Linked DNA regions of Homo sapiens. The protein of the gene in region 1 interacts with the protein of each later gene in a pairwise test. Each region holds a gene or a part of one and is shown in the gene's direction. Other genes may lie near its edges.

Evidence for each region.
Region 2: the proteins of SLC13A3 (region 1) and CYB5R3 interact in binary tests that used the Homo sapiens proteins (3 or more experiments, as listed by UniProt).

The regions. Positions count from the first base shown.
Region 1 is NC_000020.11:46,556,507-46,561,567, reverse strand, and holds the end of SLC13A3 (Na(+)/dicarboxylate cotransporter 3), read left to right. Parts: intron 1-1,369; coding exon 1,370-1,546; 3' UTR 1,547-3,740; downstream 3,741-5,061. UniProt on the Homo sapiens protein: High-affinity sodium-dicarboxylate cotransporter that accepts a range of substrates with 4-6 carbon atoms, such as the citric acid cycle intermediates succinate and alpha-ketoglutarate (2-oxoglutarate), as well as other compounds including N-acetyl-L-aspartate.
Region 2 is NC_000022.11:42,628,520-42,633,236, reverse strand, and holds part of CYB5R3 (NADH-cytochrome b5 reductase 3), read left to right. Parts: intron 1-1,786; coding exon 1,787-1,859; intron 1,860-2,248; coding exon 2,249-2,355; intron 2,356-4,717. UniProt on the Homo sapiens protein: Catalyzes the reduction of two molecules of cytochrome b5 using NADH as the electron donor.

The DNA.
Region 1 (5,061 bases):
TAAACCTAAAAATAAATGCAAAGCGGCAAAAACAAAAGAATTAAGCTCTCCCTGATAGCAGCTGCCTGGAGAAGGTTCTGGGCCTCTCCTTGTTAAAAGGGCAACTGACAGGAGCAGAGAAGTGCTGAAGCCATGGTGGCCCCTGTGAACCCCAAAAATCTGAGACAGGTCTCAGTAAATTTAGGAAGTTTATTTTGCCTAAGTTAAGGACATACGCCTGTGACACAGCTTCAGGAGGTCCTGACGACATGCACCCAAGGTGGGTGGAGCACAGCTTGATTTTATACATTTTAGGGAGGCATGAGACATCAATCAACATATGTAAGATGAACATTGGTTTGGTCCGGAAAGGCGGGACAACTCAAAGAGGGCAGGGGGCTACCAGGTCATAGGTATATAAGAGACAAATGGTTGCATTATTTTGAGTCTCTGATGAGCCTTTCCAAAGAAGGCAATCAGATATGCATTCAACTCAGTGAGCAGAGGGATGACTGAATAGAATGGGAGACAGGTTGGCCCTAAGTAGTTCCCAGTTTGACTTTTCTCTTTAGCTTAGTAATTTGGGGGCCCCAAGATTTATTTTCCTATCACACCCCTAAGAGAGACTTTCTCTGGGAGGAATAGACAGAAAGAGAATTAGAAAGGAAGTAACTGTCTCACCATGTGATTCAGCCTGGGCTATGTGAAGGCGGGGCAGCCAGAAGACCCAGGTGGGAAAACAAGGATTTTCAGCCCAAGGTGGACTGAATGGTCCAAGAGGCCAGCCAGGGTAGGGAGCAGATGGGCACATTCTCCACCGACAGAAGAAAAATGCTTCCCAATGGACAAGGGTAGTCTTGACTAGGACTACCTGACTGGACTGGACCTGAAGTGTGTGTGTGTACCTATGTGTACATATGTGTGTTCCTACATGCATGCGTGTGTGTGTGCATGCGTGTGTGTATATGTGTGTGGGATGGGGGTGTTTAGTGATCAGACAAGATTATTTTCAAGTTAGGTGACCTTGGACAAGTCAACTTCTCTAGGTCTCATTTTTCTCTTCTATAAAATGGGGATTAATAAGAATGACCTTTGTAAGGTTGCTTTCTGGGTTAAACAGCATAACCCTGTGACAACTGCGTAGCACACAGTGCCTGGAACCTAGAGGCCATCAATGAATGGGGACACTTGCAGCTCTTTGAGTGACAGCCTAGGGTAGTGTAAAGATTGAAGGGTCCCAGGCATTTACCGACCTGGGTCTGTGTCCTGGCTCCATCACTTCCTGGCTGTGCGATCTTGGGTGAGTGACTTCCTGTCTCTGAGTCTGAATGTTTCCATCTGTATGGTGGGTCAGGTGCTGACCCCTCCCTCTGTCTGGGCTCTATTTCAGGTGCGGACAGGCCTCCTGATGAACCTGATGGGTGTCCTGCTGCTCAGTTTGGCTATGAATACCTGGGCACAGACCATCTTCCAGCTGGGCACCTTCCCGGACTGGGCTGATATGTACTCGGTCAATGTCACAGCATTGCCACCCACCTTGGCCAATGACACATTTCGGACCCTCTGAGTCCCCCTGGAGGACTCCCTTGAGGCTGAACCCTCTCAAAGGGCTGTCACCATCACCTGCTGCTAGGACACTACAAAACAATCAAATAATTCTTTTCTGTAATCCAATATGCAGCAAGCAAGGGTGACCTCCAGTGGCCCACTCAAGTCCATGAGCCATTATCTAGGATACTTTCTCTCTCTTTCATGCAGTTCAAAGCCCAGGTATCTCTCAGATCTGCTGCCTGAGAAATAAGCTCCTTTATCAGTTAGCTGTTTTATCATTAGGATACAAGACAGCCCAGTGTCATCAACAGTGAGCAAATCTGGCATGGTGTTTGTCTCGTACAGTTGGGATAGGAGGCCATTCATTCCCATGGGCACAGCTAACATTATCCCCCAGTGATTACTTTCGATTACACTGAAGAGACCACCTTGTCTTTAAAGATCACTTTCCTGGGCTGCAATGTTCCAACCCAGTTGTTCCAGCTGTTCACAACCAGTGTGTGATTTTGCTTAGTTGGTGCCCATTCTGCACCAGTTGTTTTACCCCTGCCGATAACCAGCAGTCAGAGATTCTTTTTTAATCCTTGGAGACAGGGAAAGGGACAGATAGCTTTCCAAGGACATGAGACTGTGCAAAGCCTCTTTGCTGTTTCTCTGGGCTCCTGAGCATACCAGGGGAAGTTCTAGAAACCGCAGCTGACATCTCGACCCAAGAGATTTAGGATTCTCCTGTTTCATCTGGGTCAGTTTGGCCATAATTCTGGGGTCAGGCCAGGCCTGGGTCCTGCCCTCCCATGGGGTGACTCATGACCCCTCCAGCCAGGACTCTCCTACATGTGGCCCCCATAGGCCTCTGTGGCTGCAAGGCGGTCAGTTGCTGCTTGTCCCAGCAGGTGGCCTTGATCTCTCCATGCCCCACCTTAAGTGGTAAGCATGTTTAATTATCAAAGGCCCCATTTGTCAGGGGTGAGAGAAAAGTCAAAAGATAAATTGGGGCCTTGTAAAAGGCCAGGGTAAAATGTCTCAGGCAAGCAAAAGATTGTCCCCTTCTGCATATGGGTAAAACTGAGACGTCCCCGTGAGCCCGAGGCTGGAAGTGGTGTCTGCCTTCAAGGGTTAATCCCTCTTTGTTCCAAGCAGAAGCATTCTGGCATCCCAGTGAAGAGCTCAGGCCCTCAGGAAGTGTCTGCTGAATGGAATGGCCCAGCATTAGCCCAGTATTGGAAAAGACACCAGCCCAGGGGCCCTGACTCGTCACACTTCCCTTTCCTAAGCCTCTGAGGGTGGAGATTCCCCTAGGAGCGCTTGGCCAGCTGGGAAGGCAGCGCCCAGCTGCACTTGTTGTTGATACAGCATAAGTGAATCATGGGCATTTCCCTGAGAGCAGTGGGAGAGGCCCTCTGAGTTGGAAGTTGAGCTCCACCTCCTTTCCAAGTGAGCACTCAGTGTTGAATCACAGTTACAACCCACTGGGGCTGGTGGGAGATGCGTTGTATGGGACTGGAAGCAAGAGGTTCATTCAAAGAGAAACTCATGGGATTTGTAACCAGATGAATCATGATTTCTAAGACTTCTGATCAAAAATACTGTGAAATAAAGAATGTTAATCAACTTTGGACCTGGAGATGATTTGCCTTTCTGAACATAAGAGAGCTTCAAAGCCCCAAATTCCTGGGCTGGGGATTCCACAGAGTTGACCTCTCTGATTTTCTACTGCTCTTCCCTCCCCTCTCCAGCTACATACTCTGCCTCAGGGCCTTCGCATGTGCTGTTCCCTCTGCCTAGAACACTCTCTCCCAAGTATATGTCTGGTTCCCCGACTCACTTTATTCAAGTCCCTGCTCAGGTGTCACCTTCCCTGAGAGGCTTCCCTGACCTCCTGTCTAAAATGTCACCCTCATTACTCTCCACCCCCTTACTCTGCTATAATTTCTCCTTAATAGGACACTGTATAACTTATTTTCTTATTATCTTCTTCTCCCTCTAGAATATAAATTTATGAAAATACAAATGTTATTTTTTTTACTGCTGTAACTCCAGTTCCTAGAACAATTTCCAGCACATAGCAAGTGTTCAGTAAATATTTGCTGCTTGAATCTGCTCCAGAATTAACAAGAAAGCCATCTCTTCCTCTGATCTGGGGTCTGTTTTGTTCATTACTTTGTTCACTCCTTCTTCCATTTATTCATTCAATAAACATTTATTGGGAACCTGTCATGTTCTGGTTCATTGTCCCGCCCACATGGAACTTACAAGCTGGCAGGGGAGACAGGCAATAGAAACATAAACAAGTCATGTGTCATGATGCCGGCTAAGAAGAAAATGACCAAGATGTTAAACTGACTCAGAGGCTACTTTAGCCAGGGTGGACGGAGAGGACTTCTCTGAGCAGGTGGCACTAGATTGAGACCTGAAGGAGTCAGCCAGATGCTCATGGCAATGTGGGAGGAAGGGAGAAGGTGGGAGCGATGGGGAGTCTCTGGGGAGAACATTCCAGGCAAGGGGACTGCAAGTGCAGAGTTTCAGATGAGCAGATTGCTTCACTTAGTTGGGTGCTCTGAGCTGGAACTTTGTGGCATTTGGAAATCTAGAGTCTGCCTCTTCTGGCTGGTTACCAGGTGTCTCTGCAGCTTTCCTGAGAAGGCATTCTAGCTTGCTCTGACCGGATGTTACTCAGTCCTTGAAGCCTGAAGGGCTTTGCCATTCTTAGTGAAAAAGATCTGCAGGCAGAAGGCGGCAGCACCATTACGGTACGCTCATGGCAGCATAGGAACAAGGAGATGGCAGGGCTGGTACAGAGTCATTGGAATACACCAAGGGCTCATGTCCAGAAGATATGAGAAGCACCCCAACTCAGAAAAGACAAGACAAACAAAACCAAACCAAACCTTGTTTTTGTTACCTGTGGCCACATAACAAGCCATCCTCAAACTTAGAACTTTGAAACAGCAATTTCTCGGCTCACGTTTCTGCATTTGGACAGAGCTCTGCAGGGATGGCATTGTCTCTGCCCCGTGAGCTGGGAGTTTTGCTAGGGCTGGAAGGTCTGCAATGGCCGCTGACACTTCAGGGTCTCTCTTCACGTAGCTTCTCCAGGAGTCTATCCTTGACCTCTTTACATGATAGTGGCCTTCAAGAGCAACAAAAACCGAAGCTAAAAGGCCTCTAAGGGCAGGATGTGGAAGTCTAAGAACGTCAATTCTGCCAAATTCTATTGGTCAAAGTAGCCCACAGGACTGGCCTGGTTCAAGGGGAAGGAAATAGACTCCAGCCCTTGATGGTAGGGGCGGCATCCACCAGGGACAGTGGGCTGCCGTGTTTGGAAGCCATTTACCATAGCCCCCAAGAAAAAAGTGGACAAAAGGTACGAAATGTCATCCTGAAAAGAGATATCTACATGGCCAACAGGATTATGAAGAGATACCCAAACCTATGTGTTTATAATTTGCAGGGAAATGCAAATTAAAATAAATTCAACAACATGCCAATCAGACTGGGAAAAATAAGAAAAGTGGACAATAAGTCCTGGTA
Region 2 (4,717 bases), on another chromosome or scaffold:
GTATTTCATCATAGGGATGTTACACAAGGGAGCATGTGGCAGATGTCCTAGGATTGCAGCTTTGCCCCCTCATTGTGCCCATGGTGGCTTTGCGGGGTCCGCAGCGGGCCTGCTCTGGGTGCTCTGTGCTTTGCCCCACCCTGCTGCCCTACTAGAGGTTGGCCAGCACCATAATTGTTCATCTCTTGTCCTCATTTCTATTCTTTTTTTTGAGACAGAGTTTCACTCTTGTTGCCCAGGCTGGAGTGCAATGGTGCGATCTCAGCTCACTGCAACCTTGCCTCCCAGGTTCAAGTGATTCTCCTGCCTCAGCCTCCTGAGTAGCTGGGATTACAGGCATGCGCCACCACGCCTGGCTAACATTGTAGTTTTAGTAGAGACGGGATTTCTCCATGTTGTTCAGACTGGTCTCGAACTTCCGACCTCAGATGATTCGCCCACCTCGGCCTCCCAAAGTGCTGGGATTACAGGCATGAGCCACCACGCCTGGCCATCTCATTTCTATTCTTCCTCCAAATATTTTCTGGTACATGGGTGTCTGACCTTGACCCTTAGGACCAGTTGATAGTCCTGGAATCCACTTCCAGAAGGCCTTGGGGCTCTGTTTGCCCCTAATGCAGAAGCTTCTGGTAGAGGCAGCTTTGAGGCCTGGGCTGCCTGGGAGAGGTTGGTGGGCCCCCTGCACACCTGATCCTGAGTGGCGTTTGCACCGTCTTTCCTGCGATTTGCCTCTGCTCACACGTGTAGGGACGGGTCTCTCCTTGAGGCAGCTGCTCTGTGCTGGAACACTGCTCAGGTCGGAGAGTTCTCGTACTGAGCCGAGATGGGCATCTGTGATGTCCTGCCCTGTTGGAGAGGTCTGTTGTCCCCCTCTAAGTGATGACACCATCCACATGTGGACTTTGCCACGTTTGGATGTAAGCGCCTCTGCAGCGCCGACCTTCCGCATGGCTTCTTCACACTCCCTCTCCTGGCCATGCTGGGTACTGGGGACCCCACAGGGAGTGCACCCTCAGGACGCTGGGTTTGGTTCCAGCTCCGACTGGAACTGATTATGTGATCGTCCCTGGCCTGAGCGTAAGACCCACTTAACAAGACCTCAGGGGTTTTAGTCTCAGCTCCTTCCCTGGCCCAATCTGGCTCTTAGCCAGCCCCCCTCCTCCTCTGCCACTGTCCCAGCCACTGACCATGCCCTGGGTGCCCACCCTGTGCAGGGTGGAAGCCTGGCTTTGGGCTCTTGGAGTTCCTGGGCAGGGAAGGCTCCCACTTTCTGCCCTGTGAAGCCCACCTCAGTCCTGGCTGCCCCATTTCCCAAGGGGCTCTCAGGTGCAGTGGCTTCTGCAGCCCCTCTCTTGGGATGCAGGCCTGGGCACGTGCAGCCTTGTCTAGCTCTGCCCCAGTTTGCCCATCCAGCCCTCAAGTTCTTCCTGCCCCTTCAGGCCACTGCTTGAGCTGATGGCAGAGATGGATTCCTCCCTCCCCGTCCTGTCTGGCATCCTCCCTTTGGGACCCTGGGTTCATTCCCTGTTCTGGCCACCTTGTTTGTGGCCCCTCTAGGCCAGCAGGACAGACACACCCAGCGTGCGCCTGGCCTCAGCACCTCACACGCAGCGTGCATGTGTGTGCATCTGTGCTTGGCGTCGGCGTCACGTCTTACAAGGACAAGCAGGCACTGGGGAAGGGTGGGGACACAAAGGAGGAATGGGATGGGGGCTCCGAGGCCTGGGAGCCGCCCTGGGAGGCCTCTGCCCTGGGGACCGTTCAGCAGCTTTGGGCCTCTCTCCAGATCATCAGCCATGACACCCGGCGCTTCCGCTTTGCCCTGCCGTCACCCCAGCACATCCTGGGCCTCCCTGTCGGTGAGTCACGCCCCTGCTGGGCCCATTCGGAGCCCGGCAGGCTGCTGGGGCACTAGATCAGAGAGATGGAAGCTTTACATTTCCACCAGGGAGAGCAGGGAAGCCTTCAGGAGGAGGTGACAGCTGCCCTGGGCCTTTGAGGGCGAGTCTGTTGGAATGAGAGTGGGAAGGCCCAGAGTCCCTGGCAGTGGCACCAGCAGGAGTGAAGGCATGGAGGCAGGAAGCTGGGACGTGAGGGGAATCCCCGGGAGGGGTGGGAGGGGGCCGTGGGAGCTGACGCCAGGCCAGGCTTTGAATGCCGGGTGGGGTGCAGGGGAGTGGGTTGACAAGACCCAGGGGTCACCCGCAGGATGATCTCTGGCCCAGAGTGACCCCGTTCTGTCCTGCAGGCCAGCACATCTACCTCTCGGCTCGAATTGATGGAAACCTGGTCGTCCGGCCCTATACACCCATCTCCAGCGATGATGACAAGGGCTTCGTGGACCTGGTCATCAAGGTGAAGCCTCTGGGTCATGACTGTGGAGGGGGTGTGGGTGGGTGGCCATGGCAACAGCCCATGTGGACCCCCTGGACAGGGAAGTCTCCCGCTCCTGCCCTGTGCAGCCCAGCCTCGGTCATGGCTGCCCCACTTCCTCAGGGGCTTGCAGGGGCAGTGGCTTCTAGAGCCCCTCTCGAGTCCATGTCCCCCCGCAGCCCGGACTCCAAAGACCCAGTGCTCCCTTGTGCCTGGTTTCTGAGTAAATAGCACGTCATCTTTACCAACAAAAGCCAAAGAAGGGGGTCTTGGCAGAGAACAGGGGCCAGGGTTCAGGGCAAGTGCCTTCAAACAAGGACAGGTACCTGCAGCAGAGGCTCCAGGAAGGCCGGCTGGCGGTACAGACGCCCCTGCTGCGAGGTGTGACGGCGCAGTCCCGTCCCTGCTCTCACGCTGGGAGATCCCTGGGAGTTGGGTCCCGAGTGTGCGGGGTGAGGCAGCCACTCCACCGTGGTCAGCGGCCGGGCCTCTGTGACACGCAGGCCCTGTTCTTACCCGTTTCCCTAAGAAATGTCCCTCAGGCCTGCTAGGGAAACATGTGAGGGGCTCGTGTGGTGTTGTCTGGGAGCTGGGGTGATGGGCTTTCTGGGGTCTGCTGCGGGGTTCGAGGTGGAGGTTCACAGGAGAAGATGCAGGCGTTAGGGGCAGCAGCCCGGAACCTGAAACACACATGCCGAGTGGGAAGTAAGAGGCAGCATGACGGCCCCAGCAGGGACGTTTTTATGAAAATTAGAAATACAAGCTTTCAGCCAGGCACAGTGGCTCACACCTGTAAGCCACTTTGGGAGGCCAAGGCGGGTGGATCACCTGAGGTCAGGAGTTAGAGACCAGCCTGGCCGACATGGAGAAACCCCGTCTCTACTAAAAATACAAAAAAATTAGCTGGGCATGGTGGTGCGCACCTGTAATCCCAGCTACTTGGGAGGCTGAGGCAGGAGAATCACTTGAAGCTGGGAGGCAGAGGTTGCAGTAAGCCAAGATCATGCTACTGTACTCCAGCCTGGGCAATAGAATGAGAGCCAGTCAAAAAAAAAGAAATACAAGCTTTCCTGCAGAACAGAGGGTGAGAAGCAGCCTAGACCAGTGGGTATGTGGGGTGTTGGAGACCCTCCCCAATCAAGGCCAAAGCCCTATAGCCTCCCCAGCCCAGCACCCTCAGGTACCCCTGGAGCCCCCTTACTGGGCCGTAGCTGAGGCCCTTACCTTGCCAGGTCTGGGGGCAGGCACTGGATCTGAAGGGTGGGAAGGGCCCTGGCCCGGGCTCCTTCCTTGCTGGGGCGCCCAGGCCTGGCCTCAGGAGCCCGTCTTTGGCTGGAGGACGGACACTGGACACATAGTCATGGGGAAGCCAGTGCTCCCTGCAGGGGACAGGTACCTGCGACCGAGCTTCCAGAAGGGCCACCAGGGATGGGTGGGGTTGGCTGGTGAGAGTGGCTCCCTAGCAGGTGACAGTGAAGGTGAGATCTGGGGCTGAGTAGGCACTGACCAGGTGAAGAAGGAAGAAAAGGAGCTTCAGGTGCAAAGGCCCTGAAGTCAGCAGCAGGCTCAAGGATTGAAGTGGCTGGAGGGTTGGGGCAAGGGGTGGGAGAGGTCAGTGGGGCCAGACGGGGCCTTGGAGGCCCCAGTAAGGTTTGGGGCTTTGTCCAGAAGCACAGAGGAGGTGATGAGGGCTCAAGCATCTGTTCACGTTGAAGTCTCTCTGGCCAAATGTGGAGAAGCTATTAGGAGGATTCAAATTGAGGATGAAAAACTCACAGGTGACCAGGCCTCTCCTGGCTTGGAGACCTGGCTGGCTCCCTTGGTCCTTGATAAAGGTTAGAGTCCTGGCCTGGCACCCAGGGCCCAGGACAGTGTGCTCTGCCTGCCTGTCCGTGGCCCTCCACTCCCCTCTGCCTCCACACCCCATAGCCACCCTCTGTGCTGAAGCCACAACAGGCTCCCCTCCCTGAGGCACTGTGTACACGCTGTCCCTCCCCCAGCCACCTTCCCCTTCTCCATCCATCAGACTCCTTGGGCAGGGTGAGCCGCTCCTCCTCTGTCTCCCCATTTCTTTGTAGGTGTCGGATTGAGGCCCTTCTCTTTCCCAAGACAGTAATCCTAGAGAGTGCAGGGCAGGAAGTAGTCCCAAGAGTGAGGGAGGTTTTTAGCGACAGCACAAAACGGAAGGGACTGAGTGTCCACCAGGAGGAGTGTGGCTTAGTGGGCCTCCCAGAGCCTTGACTTTGCTGACGGGTTCAGTGTCTCCCGTTGGGAGGGGGCCCCAGAGACAGTTGGTGAAATGTGAGTGCATCCAGCCCTGGAGTTGGTCGGCCTTGTACACGAG